Linked DNA regions of Homo sapiens. Each later gene encodes a partner of the first gene's protein in a complex. Links are inferred from orthologs where the notes say so. Each region holds a gene or a part of one and is shown on either strand. Other genes may lie near its edges.

The links.
Region 2: the proteins of PLXNA2 (region 1) and SEMA6A are in contact, whole or in part, in a crystal structure (PDB 3AL8), measured with the Mus musculus proteins. The link is inferred for Homo sapiens from one-to-one orthologs. Residues at the interface, in NP_032908.2 of Mus musculus: Ala93, Cys94, Tyr95, Pro96, Lys155, Gln192, Asp193, Tyr194, Asp220, Phe221, Val222, Pro229, Ser230, Asp231, Leu386, Lys389, Val391, Thr394, Lys395, Ala396, Pro397, Val398, Leu407, Asp408, Ile409, Asn410, Gln411; in NP_061214.2 of Mus musculus: Arg108, Met109, Lys110, Gly111, Met162, Ala163, Thr188, Phe190, Leu191, Ile193, Tyr198, Thr206, Arg208, His212, Asp213, Ser214, Glu219, Gln266, Arg267, Glu270, Lys271, Lys393.

The regions. Positions count from the first base shown.
Region 1 is NC_000001.11:208,021,518-208,024,474, forward strand, and holds the end of PLXNA2 (plexin-A2 precursor), read right to left. Parts: 3' UTR 725-2,957; downstream 1-724. UniProt on the Homo sapiens protein: Coreceptor for SEMA3A and SEMA6A. Necessary for signaling by SEMA6A and class 3 semaphorins and subsequent remodeling of the cytoskeleton. Plays a role in axon guidance, invasive growth and cell migration.
Region 2 is NC_000005.10:116,573,173-116,577,086, reverse strand, and holds the start of SEMA6A (semaphorin-6A isoform 2 precursor), read left to right. Parts: upstream 1-2,263; 5' UTR 2,264-2,902; intron 2,903-3,746; exon of another isoform or gene 3,747-3,914. UniProt on the Homo sapiens protein: Cell surface receptor for PLXNA2 that plays an important role in cell-cell signaling. Required for normal granule cell migration in the developing cerebellum.

The DNA.
Region 1 (2,957 bases):
CCTAGGCAGGGCCCGCCTTCTTGTCTTACCTGCACTGGATCTAAAAGCACACACTATCTGGCATCTTTCCCTTTATTTACCTTTAATCCTTTAACTGAAAATGACCAAAAAAAAGCAACCATAAAACCCCTTCTCAAGGCATGGTGAAACATTCCTTTTTAAGCAAGCCTATGCTTTTCACTACACTAAAAGGTTGATGAGGACAAGGATCATGTCTTTCTCACTTATTATGTTATCCCCCAGCACTTACCACAGTGCCAGGCCGTGCTTAATACGTTTTGTACAAGCACAAGAATGCACTTTGTATACATGAATGTACAAACACATGAAGAACATGTATTAAGCATGGAGGCAGAGGAGGATCTCATTCTTCTGAGACCTCCCTTCTCTCCTGGGAAGGGGTCCTAACTCATGGAGTACACTAGCTGCCTCCAGTTGGAGGAAAGCTGTATTCTGAGGTCTTGGGGCTAGGGGGCAGTGTTCACCTGCTGGTATAAGCCACGGTATCTCGTGTGTGTGTGTGTGTGTGTGTGTGTGTGTGTGTGTGTGTGTGTGTGTGTGTGTGTGTGTTATGTTGATGATGATGACTGGTACATTAATAAGCTCTGGCTCCAGAGAGAATTCTAAAACTCCCTCAAAACAACTTAGCTCATATTTCCATGAGTACCATTCTTAAATATGCCCTTAAAATGTTATTCTGCATATATGCTGCTGAACAATCGGGTTTATTTAAAGATTTAAGGTTTTTTTAATTCAGTAAACTTTATTTATATATAACAACAGTACAAATTGTGTCCTCAGCTTGCAAAATAGGAGTGTTTCATATTTACAATAGGTACACAATAATATATTAGAATAACAAAAAACCCCACTTTATTGGAACATTTTAAATACTTAATTTTCTTACAGTTTTTATTCCACAACACCTGTAAAAACAACAAAACCAGACAACCATCATTGTATTTTCTTAAAAATATATATAATACAGATTCCAGTGTGTCAAGAGGAGTGGGTTTGAGCAGGAAAAGTTGTGGGGAAAGGCAGGTGGGCTCCGGCCCCTAGTCTCATGGGATAGAGAGCTTGTCCCTTCTGCCCTTACACACGCAAGAATATCTGTTCTGTTTGGGGGGAGTATTTCCATTCTGCCTGCCACCTTCCATGCCAAGATGAAGGCCAAATAAGTCAAAGTGAGGACTTTGAAATGCAGAAGATGTTTCCTACCTTCCTTGAGGCCAGGGTAGGAGGGAGCAGGCTGCACTGCAGCAGAAAGAAGACAGCTCAGGCTGAAGGGAGAGCTTCTCTGCTGTGAGAAGAATGAGATGTGGGTGTCCACGAGAGGCTGAGGAATCTCCAGTTTGCTTATTGGGTGGAGGCCCTGTATGCCAAGCAGTGGCTGTGATCGTGTCTCAGGACTTTCCCTAGCACTAGTTAGAAAATACCAAGAGTGAAACTTTATCCCTCATTCATGGGGATCACTGAGCTCCAGATACTAAAACGTCACACTTCAGGGAAACTAGGGAAGAGAGACTGAGTTATGGAAAGGATGCTACCATTTTTCTCAAAGCATGTTCCTGAGACAAGGCGTCGGAAGGCCCTGAAGTTCATCTCCCAAGTTCCCCGTCGATCTGCTCCCACAGCCCTGTGTCTGTGAAGCCACTTTGCATTTTCTCACCCACTGAGCCTCCTGAGTCTCAATTCTTTTCTCTCTGTGCCCAGGCCCCAGGAGTCTCATGCAAGACACAGCGTGGCTGGGAAAAAAAGACGGCCTCTCCTGGAGCAGCTGCTGGATCAGTATTTACCAGGAGCAGGTTAATGGGGGCAGGCGTGGCAACCGGGATGCACCTGGAGATTTATCAGCCAGAAGCTTTCAAATGCTCCCTATTTGTTCTGCCCAGGCCATTCTTCGTCCAGCACTCATCCATTGCTTCTGTTTCACGCTCAGCAGGGCCAGGGGTCTTGACTGCTATTTCCTGTCCTCATTTGGTGGAACTGAAGGAAGGTCAGAAGCTCAAGCAGCAGGTGAAGTGCAGCCAGAAGAGATGGTGGCAGTAGAAACAAGAGCAGCTCTCATCGCTGGGGGAATGGCCCCAGAATAAGGTAAGGCAGCTGGGTTGGTCTGCTTTCTTCCTTTGCTGGACCACTTTTCCTACAAAACTGGTACCCTGTGCCACTAGGGGAGGAGAACTGTTGCCTGCTAAGTTGGTGGCAGGAACCAGCTTCCTGAAGGATATAAATTCGCTGGAAGAAAGACCTTGGTTTTGTTCCGTGCTGTTTTCCCATCTCTAGAGCAGTGGCTGGCAGACAGTGGCTACTCAAGAAGGTTCCCAGATGAATGAATGCAGGAAACAGTTCCCTCCTCCAATGAGATTAACAGCTGATCCATGCTTTTAATGACTGAACTCTGTAAAGAGGGGAACCCTCTGCCAATGGGGGATCAAAATGGTTTTGAGAGCCCTGCTGTGGAGAGAGGTAGGACAGCAAGCACAGAAGCACCTGACCCCATGCAGAGGACGGGAGGCAGCAGCAGGGGCCAGCTGGAGGGAGTGCTCTCCATTGCCCATTAGCATCCTCTGTCTTGCCAAGCACCCTTCTGGGGTCCTCTTCCTTTTCCAGAGCATTGTCTCTTGTGCAGATCAATGAAACGAAGCGAAGCTGGATAGACTTTGGAGAGAGACTTCCCTCTCTGCCTCCCCCAAGATGAATGGCTTCTTGTGGAGAGGAGCTGTGGCTTTAACACTTCATCCTTACCCAAGGTCAAAATATCCTCAAATTGGATAACAGGGAGAAGAGAGGCCAACCAACTCCCTCTTTTTCTCATCCAAAGGGTGTGGACTTCATTGGTTCTTGGTGGCCCAAAGCGAAGAGGTGTGGAGGAGGAACAGGTGGGCAGCTGGAAAGGGGGCAGGGCCTTATAACCTTTCACCCTCATGGCGTGGCTTGAGTCCAGCTTTTTCCCT
Region 2 (3,914 bases), on another chromosome or scaffold:
GCTCCTACTTGGATGGTGAGACTAGGATCTAGTAATTGCCAGGAAGATTCTGGGTGGTATTTCTTCACTGTGAAAAGTAGACTCCAATTCTTTAACTCTCGTATTCTATAATTTTAAATTAGGTAAATTTAATCGCTCGCTTCTTGGCTCAGCGTTACTACAAATTAAACATGCAAGTATTAATATTGAATATAATGTCCCTTTAAACAATATCCTGAAACTCGTTGTGGGGCATTTCCAATATATCCATAAAGCAAATAAAACAACTTAATTGTTTGTTTCTCTAAGGGAAGGAGCTAAACCCGAAATTAATTTAGTTCGGCCTGTGAAACAATTCGTTTGCTCTGCCTAATTCTGCCAATTTAAGAACTTTTCCCAGACACAATTAGCATGTAAATCGGCGGCGGGGAGCGAAGAAGGAGCCTCGGCGACCCCGGTTGGGTGGAGCGCGGGACAAAAAACCCCGGAGGCCGAAGGGTCCGGAGCTTCGAAGGGGCTGCAGTACCGCGCCTGGGGCGCACGGACGAGCCAGGGGACCAGCTCACACTGACCCTGCAGTCATCAGCCAAAATCTGGGTGTTAAATAGCGCAGCCGGGGATCCAGCCGTCTTGGCCGCCAGATCCTTCTCCTAACCCCGCGGGATTCTGAGGAGACGTCCTGGAGCCGGCCCCCACCCAACCCGCGGGAAAGCGCAATCCTACCCACCGCCCCACACTCCCCAACCCCCTCCCGAGGCTGGCTCTTGAAGCCGCGGGGGCTGCGCGCGCACCTAGGGCCGCGCCCCCCACTACCCCAGGTCTATAGAGGCCTTTGCCCGAGAAAGGTGGGGATAGCGGCCCCTGCTGACAGCTCTGGAGAACAGCAGGGGTACTGATTTTTTCTTTTTTTCCTACCATTCTCCCTACCTTTTCCAGGTGGTGGTAGTGGTGCGGGGGGAATGGGTGTTGACCCATGTGCATTTATTCTTCGTGAAGCCTCTTAAGCAGATGTCTGTACTTAGAGAAGCGACCAAAGAGGGAACGTGGACTTATTAGTGGTCTTAGTCCCAATTAGGGAACAGGTACAGTTTCCAATATAAAGAAACTCGGCCTAAGTGGGACTGAGACCCCGATCTCCGCACTTGCTTTTCTCAGCCAACTCCATGACTAGTAAATATCTCTCCGAGAACTGCTGGGCCGCCCGATGTTACTTTGTTTAAAGGTTGCGACTAGGATCCGTACCATCTGCGAAGCCCCCTTGGGGAGCAAGAGCCGCGGCGCGCAGTTGATTTCGGGGCGCAGCGGCAGGGGGAGGGGAACGTGGTGTGGCCCGACGAGTTGGCACAAGCCTGTAACTGCAAGACTTTGTAGCTATTGAAAGTTCAAGTGGTGAAAGAAGGCTGTGCCTGCCATTCTTCATGTGATCATAACAATAGCGCCTTGGAAGTGGTTGCGATTTTCTTCTTCCATAAACCTTTTGGGTTCTCACTGGAATTGTATGCGTGTTATTTCTGAAGTTTACTTATTTCTAAGACCAGTCCACAAAATGTGAACTTCATTAAGTTTTAAAATAGATCGCCGTCGTTAAAAACGCCATTCTCTGCACTGTAGTTTATTTGCTTACTTCACATGCTTTATTAACGTGTGTATGTGCGTAATTAATAGCTGTGTTCTTATCTTCCAAGTGTATTTTTAACCGCACCGGCTTCTATCCAATTCATCTAACTACGTAGAGCGTCCATCGCTTCTGGAATCTACCTCTTGATAACAGTAATCAGAATCAGAAAAGCTCGCCGTTCACTTACCCTCATCCTTTAAAACTTTTCCATTTAAGAAAATCGATGAACAAAACCTTTCTTGTAACTCGCTCCTGCACTACGTCTATTTTTATTTATTTTTCTGATTTGGCAGGACTCAGCAATGCTGTCCGGGATTTTTTTTTTCTTTTTTTTTTTCCTAGCTAGAGCAGATGTGGGGGTGGGGGAGGTGAGGGCTGGGCTCCAGCCAGAGTCGCCCCCGCTGAGCCTCCGCCTAGCGCGCGGTGGGGCCAGGAATCCTGGTGGAAGGAAGCGGCGCTGGCCAGTTGGTCCAAGGCTCCACCTGCAGCCACACCGCGTAGTTTCTCCGCCTCTGCCTCGCTCACTCGCACTCACATACACCACAGCTCTCCTTTGGGTCGGAGGAGACGCCAGCCAAAGTAGGCGGAGTTGCGGAAGGAGAGTCCGATCTGCGCAATCCAGTCCGGGACTTGGCTCCGCCCGGGAGCGGCGGCCTCTCCGGTGACAGAGGAGTAGTGAGCGGCACGGGGTGAGGCTGCAGCCAACTCCGCTCCCCGCGCACTCGGCTGCCCAGGCGCTCGGAACCCAGCAGCGGCGCTCCTCCGCGGTGCCGGTCGCCCGCGATGCCCGCTTAGCAGCGTGTAGCAGCGGCCAGCATCACCACACCCGCGGCACCGCGCTGCCGGCCGCAGAGCCGGGCCAGAGCCTTGCACCCCTGCCCCAGCCCCCACCCCGCCCCCCGCCCTGAAATGACTTGTTAATCGGCGCAGACACCACCAAGGGGACTCACCGAAGTGGAATCCAAGTGGAATTTGGATTTGGAGAAGAGTTTCTTGAACATTTACCCTCTTCCTTGTTGGTTTTCTTTTTCTTTTTCTTCTTTTTTTTTTTGGCTTCTTTTTTCCTCTCCCCTTCTCCGCTCGTCATTGGAGATGAACACATCGCGTTTGCATCCCAGAAAGTAGTCGCCGCGACTATTTCCCCCAAAGAGACAAGCACACATGTAGGAATGACAAAGGCTTGCGAAGGAGAGAGCGCAGCCCGCGGCCCGGAGAGATCCCCTCGATAATGGATTACTAAATGGGATACACGCTGTACCAGTTCGCTCCGAGCCCCGGCCGCCTGTCCGTCGATGCACCGAAAAGGTACGCCCCGGGCGCCCGGGCGCGCCCCACCTCCCGGGCAGCTGGACTCCAGCCTGAGGGTCCCGGGGCCGTGGCTAGCGCGTGCTGTCGGCTTTGTGGTGCCTGCGTTTTATTTTGTCTTGTGTCTCTGTTTCCCGAGCCTTGCCCGGTCCTGGGGGAGCAGCCGTGAGCCCTGCCTGCCTTTCCTCTCTGCCCTGCGCCCCAGAGTGCGTCCGGCTCCACGTCGAGAGCTTTCCCACCCGCGTTGCGCACACGCCCGGCGCCGCCCCGGGCCGCGACGGCGCGTATGGCTGTTCCTCCTGGGGGTGTGTGTGCGAGACCCAAGGCTCATCCTCCCGCGTGCCCAGCAGGGAGCAGAGCGGGCCCTAAATGGTGGGATTCTCGGAAGCTCCCTGGCCCGGTGTGTCGAAGGCAGGGGAAGGGGTTCTGCCCTCGAGGGCTGGAGGGGGTTGGGTATAACAGCGCTGTTTTCGTCCAGTGCCAGGTGGGAGAAGGGGTTCCGCGGAGACGGTGTGGAAGCGGAGAGAATCTTTTGTTGTCAGTGTGGGGTCTGGGCTGGGCTCCGTGGAGTGCAAGAAACTTGTAATGGCTCTAGGCACCCGCGCGCCCTGTCTCTCGGTGAGATCCTGGCTCCTGTGGCCGCTGCCACCAGAGGTTCCGGGCTTTGTTTGCTCGAATAAGTGTCCGGGAGCAGCCGTTCGGGTGACGCGGCGCCCCCGCCATGGGTCCTGTCCCCCGCCGCAGCTCCCAACCCGAGCGGCAAGGATATAGCCCGTCGCGGCTGCGTCCCTCCTGAAGCACCGAGCCCTTTGCACCGGGCTGGCGCACGGTACGCCCTCCTCCCAGATCAGCGCGGTCTCGCTCTGGAAAGATGACCCAGGAGGGGGAAGGGTGAGAGACCTGGCAGAAGATGGCCCTGGGTTTGAAACCCAGACTAGGGCTCTGTTCCGACTCCTCACTGTGTCCTAGGGCGCTACCATGGGGGCAATGGGGCGCTGGAGAGTAAGCCGGG